Homo sapiens: one gene and its partner. The protein of the gene in region 2 purifies or fractionates together with the protein of the main gene of each other region. This does not show direct contact. Each region holds a gene or a part of one and is shown on either strand. Other genes may lie near its edges.

Region 1 (5,214 bases), on a different chromosome or scaffold from region 2:
CTTTATGCTTATAGACCTGTTGTCATCTGCAGTTGGGAAACACACTCACCATCTCCCTGTTGTCCTATTTCACTACGATGCCCAGCCCCAAAGCCACAGGGAACAATCAGAGTCCGTAGCCTGGAGCACTGTGCCTGAGAAAATGTCCCTGAGCGCTTTCAGGGAAGTGTTCCCAGGGACAGCTGAAACAAACTGCCCTTGTGGTCATCATCAGGATCCTAGAATAGCACTCCTCGACAGCTCTCTCCAAGCGGTGGAAATGGAAATGTACATGTATATTTGCAATGTCCAATTCAGGAGCCACTTGCCACACCAAGTACCTGAAATGACTACTGGGCATCTGAAATGTGGTTCCTGTGAATGAAGACTAAACTTGATTTTATTTAACTATTTTCAGTTAAAATTTTTTTTTTTAGAGACAGAGTCTCGTTCTGTTGCCCAGGCTGGAGTGCAGTGGTGCGACCTCGGCTCACCACAACCTCTACCTCCCAGGTTCAAGCGATTCTCCTGCCTCAGCCTCCCAAGTAGCTGGGACTACAGGCATATGCCACCATGCCCAGCTAATTTTTGTATTTTTAGTAGAGATGGGGTTTCACTACGTTAGCCAGGTTGGTCTCAAACTCCTGACCTCATGATTCGCTTGCTTCGGCCTCCCAAAGTGCTGGGATTACAGGCATGAGCCATAGCGCCCAGCCTCAGTTAAAATTTATATAGTCATATGTGGCTACTGGCTATTATACTAAACTATCGTGTTTGGACTATCATGTTTTATAATCGTGTAATAGGGCTGTATAGTACAGCCCTAGAGAGAGCCGATGACACCTCTTTGATCAGTAAGTGATAGATTCCTATGCCAGTCTATCTAGACTCATGTGAAAATCGGTAACTCTAGTACGGGCACAGGCCAGTCTCTGTGAAAATACTGTTTGTCAGAAAAGCATCTTGGCACCTCTGGCCTCCCCCACTTCACCTTTCCTTCCCCTCCCTGGAAGGACAGAGTTTACGAACTCACTGTAAAACTCACCTTCGCCATAAGACCTTCTTCAACTAAGTGCTCCATGTGAACCCCAGGGTTTGATATGGTACTGCCTGTGATCTGTCATTCTGGGTACTATTTCCTGCTTCCAGCTGGTTGGCAGCCAGCCCACCTGCTCCATCTTCCACCCCAGCTACTGCGGAAATAGGGACCATGCTCGCCTTCTTCCTCAGCAGGGGCAGGGGAGACCTCCCTTCTGTGCTGCCATGATAACCCTGAGTCCTTGCACAGAATGCACTGCGCTGTTGCCTCAGTATCCACCCATGTTTCAGGGACTTAGGGACAGAATGAAACCTGCCCAAGGCAGGAAAGATGTTATTACAGAACATGACAGTCCAAAGCACAGCCTCAAAATCTGCACCAAGATTTCTGGGCAGGGAAAAAGTTATCATCAGGAAGGCACAGACTTGTTAGCGAAATGCTCTGACCTAGCCCAAGAAACCAGGTGCTTCTCTGCTCCTGACATCAGGCTTGGCCAGGCTGTCAAGTGCTCCAAAAAGTGCTCCAACTTTGATCCTGCCCATCTAGGGCAGAAGCTGAACGGCTCAACAATGATACTACTGAGCTGAGAGCCTTCAGCAAGTCTTTTCCAAGCTGCAGCCTTTGCTTCTTCCCTAGTAGAGAGTAGCTGCTGGTGATAACCAGTAAAGACCTTCTAAAACCAGGATTTGAATTCTGTTACTACTGGAGACACTGAGAATCCGGAACATGGTCTTTTCCACCTCAGGAACCATCACCATACCCCACCTGAAGAGTAGGGCCTCAGGCAGTTTGAGAGTGAAGTTCCCAGGGACTTCCAGTCTGAGCTGCTGAGCCTGCTTTGATGAGCAGATGCCCTTCCAACCCCCGCTCTGCATACCTGTATTTATGTCGCCCACAGTTGCTTGTTTGTAGTGGCCATAGATGAACAGCATCTCCTCATCCGATGGCTTGGTCTTAAGGTGCCTAACCTCCTCTGCAGCTTTCTCAAACTCAGCCTAAATGGAAGGGAGAGGAGAGGATTGAGGGCCTCCTCTGGGTGGGAGAGGGTAAGAATCCTACTGTGGCCTGATGACAGCCCAGTTACGGGGATGGAGAGGTGGGAAAGGTGGCACCCTTCGGGCAATGCAGCCCCTGAAGTGTGTCTGCCCCTCCCTGCCCCAACAGGGCAGCTAGAAAGATTCAGCAACACAAGAAGGGGAAGCCCCTCCAGTTCACTCATTCAATCGAAAACCATATATCCAGAGCTCTCACAAACGCAGGCATCAGGTCTGGAAATACAGCAGTGAAGAGGGCAGGCCAAGCCTTCGCCCCCAGTGGGGGTCCCCTCTGCGGGAGAAGCAGCGCGGCCAACTGCCTGGCCACCACCGGGCCAGGCACTAGGGAGTGGCCGGGGCTGCAGCGAAGCCCTGGCCTGAGGACAGACGGGGCACAGTATGCTGGAAACAGCTGAAAGGGGACAGGGCATGAGTGCCGCGGTGTCAGCGCCGGAGCCCGTTGGTCCCCTCCCTCCCCCTGGGGCCCGCGCGTTCAACACCGACCTCTGTCCCAGTGCCCGGATTGGCAGAGGCAGGCGGGAGGAGCCAGAGGTCGCCCCACATAGCTCGGTCTCAGACAAGGGTCTACACTGGAGAGAAGGGAGGGGCCCCTGGGTCACCTCTCCCCGGGCCGCGATTCTCCTCGTCCCGCACTCTGAGCAGCCGGCCCCGTACTTCCCCTGACCTCCAAGCTCTCGGCCACGGACTCCTCGCTTCCCCACTCCGCCGCGACGTCCTGCCCTGTGCTTCGGGATGGGGACTGAGTCTCCTCGCTCCTCCAATCCGTGCAACCCCTTCCCCCATCTCTCCATCAAGCACCCTCGACTCCCACCCCTCTCCCGCTACACAGCGAAGTCCACCCCATGGGCAACTTTCCGGCAGTTGCGGGGTGGGCAGCAGATTTAGAAATCCCCAAACGGAAAATCCCGCTCACAAGGCTCTGTCCAACGAATCAGGGCTAGGCATGGGCCCATGAGCAAGTGAGGGGCACGGAAGGAAAGAGCCCGAGAGCTTCTGGCAGCCGGCTGAGCCCCCAACGGGCCTCCCGCCCGCTGCACCTTCGCAGCCTGGCTGTGCACGCGCTGTACCTGAGACATCCTGGCCGACTTGCAAGAACTCCAGGGAGACAGCGGAGGAGGCGAGGACCAGGAAGCGATCGCCCAGATTGCACTGGCAAGCGCCTTTAGAGGCGCGGTCCACTCGCCCCAACCCTGCTCGGGCGAGCACCGGAAAGCCAATCAGAAGCCAGCTATGCGCTAGGGGCGTGCCCAGCCCCCGCCGCGGCGCTAGCCCCGCCCGAGCCCACGTGGGACCGCTTGCGCAAACGCCGGGAGTAGCCGAAGGGGACGCCGGGAACAGGTGGGGACAACGGAAGTAGGGTGCTTAGTTTTGCTGCCGGGAGTTGGTCGAGAGTTGGGTTCAGTCCTGGCCCGTTGTGGGGACGGCACGCGGGGGAAGGGGAGGGGACGGAGACCGAAGAACGGAGGTCCTTATGTTTCTTTTCTTTCCTTAAATCTTGCCCGGCCTGAAGAGGCCGGAAGTTGCATCTCTGGACAAGTAAACTCTGAGACCTGGGAATGGCGGGCGGGACCCGCTCCTCCCTTGGGGTCTAGAGGAGACCCCCGGAGATGGTCCCTGATGAGCAGCGTGATGGTGGAAAGCTGGACTGGTCTCCCGAAAGGCGAAGCCGAGGCTTCTTCCTCTGAACTTTTGGCACGTTCTTTGACTTGCTTGTGGCCGTAGTGTCAGGCCTGTATTGCACATTTATGTCTGTGGTGCATTTCTCCATCTGGTGCGTTAAAGGCAGGGACGGTGTCTTATTTGTCTTGATTTAACAAACTTGGACGGGACGAAGTGCTCAGCAAATATTTGTTAAATGAATGGCTGTTTATTGAACTCCTGTTGGGTAACTTGCACTGTTCTAGACCTTGGCAGACAGCAGTGAACAAAGCGGGTGAATCCCTGCAATCTTGGAACTTACAAGTAGGGACAGTAGTTTATACAATAAGTTAAATATAGAGTACTTTAGGGGCTTAGAGAGTTGGAAGTTTATAGTTTTAAATGGAGGAGGGGGAGTATTGAGGGAAGGTGACATTTGAGAAAGTTCCTCAAGGAGGGGAGGGAAGATTCCAAGCAGAGAACAAGTGTAAAGGCGTGGGCAAGGAACCAGGGGAAGAGTAGAAAGATGAGGCTGGAGAGTTTTGGCGGTGGCAGACTGGCTAGGTGATGCAGAAGTTGGCCATCACAGGGACTTTGACTGTCATGCTGAGTGAGATGGGAAATCGTAAAAGGGTTTGAAAAGAGGATGAGGAGACGGAGGGGAACGTCTTTGCGAGATTGTTACACAGCCTAATCTCCATGGGAACTGAAAGGAGCAGCACAGGTGTCTGGAAGTGTTTTAGGATCGATGTTTAAGAAGCTAAAGGAAGACTTCTCTGGCAGTGGTTGCAAAGGAGCTGGGTGAAGAGAGGGAAATGATGGAAAATTCTCTGGAGATCATTAAAAAAGCAAAGTCATTCCTCTCTAATTCATAATTTGTGGCAAGAGGGCTGGACTACAAATCTCTGCCCTGCCTACACCTTCCCCCTCCCCAGGGAAGGTAGACGCTTTCAGACTTAACTTGCTAACTTAATGTAGGTCACGTTTTATGGAATGTTTGGGAAGAAATGAAGATGCAATAGGGAACAAATCTAGGGTTTTCAGTCTGAGCATAATTTTGTTTGAGAAAGGAAAACCAAACAAATTAACAAAAATCTTGGAGTTAAATATGGGGAAAGTACACTGAAGTGTAAGAAATGCAGGTTTCTTCGAAAATCACAATTCAGAGCTGCTTTTTCCATTTGAGGCCTGGATTTGTTTTTGCTCTACTTGGTGCTTACAGCTTCCTTGATGGAAACTCAGATTATTGCTTGTGTGGGCCAGATTTGCAGTCAAATACATCTCCTAGTCAGCAGGTTTTAAGTTAGGGTATTGTTGAGATTAGGTACTTTGAGAATGCAGTTATCACTTCTCAAAGATCAGTTGCTTTTAGTTTTTTAGTTTTTGTTTTTTAATTATTTTCGCGTGTGATGTGGTCTCACTCTTTTACCTAGGCTGTAGTTCAGTGGCACAATCTCAGCTCTCTGCAGCCTTGAACTCCAGGCCTCAAGCGATCCTCCCACC
Region 2 (4,509 bases):
TCCCCCTTGTCTCCATCAATGACAGTCACCATGCCCACTGGACTCAGTGCTGGCATGTTCTCCATCACTGAGAAGTTGTAGCCACTCAGCATAAATTTGGGGTCATTGTCATTGCAGTCCAGCACATTGACAAGGACAGTGGCTGTGCCCTGGAGGCTAGGACTGCCCCGGTCAGCTGCCACCACCTTCAACTCATAGCTCTCCCGCTGTTCCCGATCCAGAGATGTCTTCACCTGGATCTCTCCAGTCTCGGGTGAGATGGTGAAGAGGCCCTTAGCAGCCGGCTCAGGCTCCAGAGAGTAAACCAGCTCAGCATTAGAGCCAGAGTCAGCATCACTGGCAGTGATCTCAGCAATCACTTCACCAGGCTTGTTGTTTTCCGGGAAGGCGACCTCAGTGACACTCTGAGTGAAGACAGGTGCGTTGTCATTGACGTCCACCACCTGCACCTTGAGGGAGTTAGTGCTGGAGAGTGGGGGGTTGCCAGAGTCCACAGCCACAATCTCAATGGTGTAGTCTTTGACCTTCTCGTAGTCTAGCGGGGTGGTAGTCTGCAGGAAATACTTCTTCTTGCTGTCACTGCCTGTCTCACTGGCCTGGCGCAGCTGGAAGGGCACATCACCTGCCACCACACAGGTGACAGCTGCATTCTCTCCCTCATCTCGGTCAGACACCTGCACCAGGGCCACAGCTGTCTCCTCTGCCACATCCTCTGAGATGTTAGCCATCCCATCTTGATGAGTCACTAGCCCTATGCCCCGGATCTCAATGGTGGGGGCATTGTCATTCATGTCCTTCACGGTCACAACCACCTGGGCACGGGCACTCTTGGGGTTGGTGCCTCGGTCCTTAGCAAGCACTGAGAAGCGCAGGGTGCTTAGGTCCTCACGGTCCACCGGGCCCTGAACAGTGATAAGTCCAGTGTTCCTGTCCAGTCGAAGAAGACGCCTCACAACTTCGGGCGCCTGGTGGAATGTGTATTCGATTTCTGCATTGGCACCTTGGTCTGAGTCATTGGCCTTCACCTATAGGGCAGGAGAGAAAAACAAGGAGAACAGAGATGGTTTAGATCAGGGATAGCAAATAAAGGGGCACACATGCTGCCAATGTCCTTTCCAACAAGCATGGCAGACACAGCCAATCCAACATCGCTCCCTTTCCAGAAGCCATGTGTGTCCTGCCTTTTCCCAATTCGGACATTCTGGCAGGCATTACTAACCTATTTTCCTGAAGAGCCCAGATGCAGCCTGCAAATCCTCAACAGTGCTACAGGCAACTATTGGAGATGGGACAGGGCAGAATTAAACCTCACTTGTCATTGCTGTATGGGTCCACAAAAATACCAGGAGAGGATGAGGATCCAATAGAACTAGGGAAGCCATTTCACCAATGAACCCTGCCTGAACCCTCCTGAAGAGATGGAGAGGTGCGAGTAGTAGAGGCGGTGTGTGTGCCCGTGTGAATGTGCACTACATGCACGCACGCATGCACATATGTATGTGTATGATTGTGTCAGAATGTGTGATTAAATGTGATATGTTTGTGTGAGAAGGTATATGTGTTTGTATGTGTATGATTGTGTCAGAATGTGTGATTATGTGTGATTTTTGTGTGAGAAGGTATATGTGTTTGTGCATATGTGTGTTTGCACACATGAGTAAAGACTCACATGCCCATCTGAAGGCCCCAGGTTGGGGGATTTCTTTTGAAAGAAGTCAGGTAGGGTTGTGGGTCAGAGAAGCCCTCCAGGCCGGGCCCCAGCCACCGCTCTGTCAAACCGGGGAAACCTGTTTCAGCAGCAACTTCTCCTCCCGACTGGCACCGGCTGGCGAGGCACCAATGCGAGGAATCCGGCCTGAGCCTGCAGCCAGGAGGGAGGGGTTGATGCAGGCCACAGAGCCTGCTGGCAGTGGGCTGGGCTCCCAGCATCAAACAATGAACTGTCTGTCCCTCTGCAGTCAGCGGGCACACCCTCCCACGCCAACTCCAACGCGCACTCGACTCAACTCTATACAAACATGGTTGGTAATGGGGAAGAGGACCCAGGTGGGAATGGCCATGGGGTACTACTGGGCAGGGAGAAACATGAGGGCTGGAGTTAGGTCACAGCCAGACAGAATGTGACTGCTGTGGGGAGTGAGGGGAGAATAAGCATAACTTGGCAGAGTCTCTGGGGTAACAAAACAGAAGAGTCCTGGGTTCAAATCCCAGTTATACCACTTCCCAAGTAACTATGTGACCTTGGGCCAATTATTTAACCTCCCTAAGCCTCAGTCTATGAATGTGTGAAATGGGGATAATAATGTAACCTATTTCACAGAACTGTGGTGAGCATCAAATGGGATAATACAGGTAAAAATGCCTGACATTGCCCGGCACAGGGAAAGTGCTCCCTAAAGAGCATGTATTTCTTTTTGTCTGTCCAACCATCTACCCTCCTACCCGCCTGCCTCTGAAAAATCAGTGCTAATGCAGTAGTGGGCACTGCACCTAGTGAGCCCTCAAGCCACTGCCAGTCCTCTCCTCCTTGGGAATGGGAACTCCAGCTATCCCCGCCTGGGCTTTTCCTACAGTGAAGACTCCTGGGCAATGGTTCCCCAGGTACCCTGGTCTCTGCTCACATCTCTGAGTGCCAAACCCTAACAGTTTCTCCTCCCCTCACCCCAGTCTACCTGTCATCAACTTTATGATGAGGATCCCCAGTCTCCCTTGGCTCTAGATTGGTCTTCCAGCTTATCTGTCTCTTGTCTTACCTCTCTTTGTCTCTGTGACTCTTGGCTTCTGTCTCCTTTCTATCCTTGCTCAGTTCTGATTCTTCCCCTTTCCCACAGCCTGTTTTCTTCCATCCTCTCTTTTCAGCCCTGCTGACCTCTCTGCTTACTCTCTGCCCTACTCTCCCGCTTCACCTCACTGGGAGGTGGTAAAGCTCTTACACACCTAGGCTCTGAAGCCAGACTCTTGGCTGCGGCAAAGGTGGACTCTGAACTCATTAGCTGTAGGATATCAGGCGAGTTTTCTAATCTGTTTGGGCCCGGTTTCTCATCTGCAAAATGGGGATAATACTTACCTTGTACTGTAAGGATTAAATGATATAATACACATCATGTGTTTAGAACGGTGCCTGGCACCTAGGCTATTATTATTTGCTATCCCCGACTGTCTGTCTCCCTTTTCTTTCTCAGTCTCTTTTCCAGGTCCCAGTCCACCAGGCTCTAAAAAAAAAAAAAAAGGCTGAAACTCCCACCCATCTCCCACTTTGGCTTGAGGACCCAGGACTAAGGGTTTTCCAGGATGGGTAATGGTGTCCAGGGCAGGCCGAGCCTCCTCAGCTCCCTCACATCAAAGAGAGAGGCATCTTCAGCCCATGGGGAAGGGGAAAGGAGCTGGGGCTGGCAGGAGGCCAGAGCTGAGATGACAGCGGGAGATACACCCACCTGTCTGCAGAGACGCTTTCTTTGCTCCCTCCCAGTCCCCAGCCCCACCAAGCTGCCTAGCGCCTGGGGCAGTTCCCATGGAGAGGGGTGCTGAGAACTTCAACAGAGGAAATTGACCCCCCACTGAACCCCACTGTACCAAGCACCCCACATCTATGGGCACCCCATGCCTAGGGGAGGAGGCATGTATACAGACACCCTAGTATGTTTTTTCAGAACTCTGAGGGTCCCACCTGGCTAAAATGATCTCATCTGACTTTGTCAGGAAGAGGCAAAATGAGGCTATATCCTCCAGCTTCAGGAAAACCTCATCTGGCTAAAGAGAAACTATCCCTGGTTGGGAAGATACTCTCATCTCAGGAGAGATTCTACCTGGATAAACGGTGATTCCTTTGTTCCAACTCAGCTCACCTGGCTAGCAGAGAAGGATCTACTTGACTAGGGCGGGAGTTTTACTTCTCAGAGGTTCCCCCAGCTTGAGTCTGCCTTAGGGGTCACGGGAAACTGTTCATATGCTATTTCACTGTCACCTAAGTAGCCTGATAGAGGAAAGTAATATCACCTGCTGGGGTGGGGTGGGAAAGACTCCCCTGGCTGAGTTTGGGGAGAAGGGGTCTCACTACAGTATTCTGGCAGTTTTTCCCCTAAGTGAAGGGAACTCTCACCTGGTTGGGTGGGCTCCCATTTCTAGTGGTGGGTCACCCTGACAGTTATACGGAGGGGGCCTCTCACCTGGATGACCGAGTGGCCTATGGGGCTATTCTCAGATAGTTCGGCCTCATAGGAGGGCCGCTCAAACTTGGGGGCGTTGTCATTGGTGTCAAGCACGGTGACACGCAGCAGGGCACTGCTGGCGCGTGGGGGGCTGCCGCCATCCTGCACCTTGATGGTGAGGTCATAGGAGTCCCAGCGCTCACGGTCCAGGTTGCCCATCACAATGAGCTGTGGTTGCTTCTCCTCCTGGTCCTCTGCCACCTGCAGCCCAAATAGCTCCTGGGCCTCAGGCCCAGCCTGCAGCTCATAGGATGCCACACCGTTGGGACCAGCATCACGGTCTGAAGCCAGCGGGATGGGG

The links. The genes of interacting proteins can lie anywhere in the genome.
Region 1: the proteins of PCDH1 (region 2) and DBI purify together in Homo sapiens (affinity purification with mass spectrometry; one large-scale study listed by BioGRID and IntAct). This does not show direct contact.

The regions. Positions count from the first base shown.
Region 1 is NC_000002.12:119,364,987-119,370,200, reverse strand, and holds the start of DBI (acyl-CoA-binding protein), read right to left. Parts: upstream 3,225-5,214; 5' UTR 3,150-3,224; coding exon 3,141-3,149; coding exon of another isoform or gene 3,111-3,140; exon of another isoform or gene 2,865-3,110; coding exon of another isoform or gene 2,673-2,864; intron 2,643-2,672; exon of another isoform or gene 2,617-2,642; coding exon of another isoform or gene 2,557-2,616; intron 2,488-2,556; exon of another isoform or gene 2,282-2,487; coding exon of another isoform or gene 2,270-2,281; intron 2,014-2,269; coding exon 1,896-2,013; intron 1-1,895.
Region 2 is NC_000005.10:141,864,403-141,868,911, forward strand, and holds part of PCDH1 (protocadherin-1 isoform 2 precursor), read right to left. Parts: coding exon 4,167-4,509; intron 4,077-4,166; exon of another isoform or gene 3,068-4,076; intron 1,801-3,067; exon of another isoform or gene 1,670-1,800; intron 1,026-1,669; coding exon 1-1,025. UniProt on the Homo sapiens protein: May be involved in cell-cell interaction processes and in cell adhesion.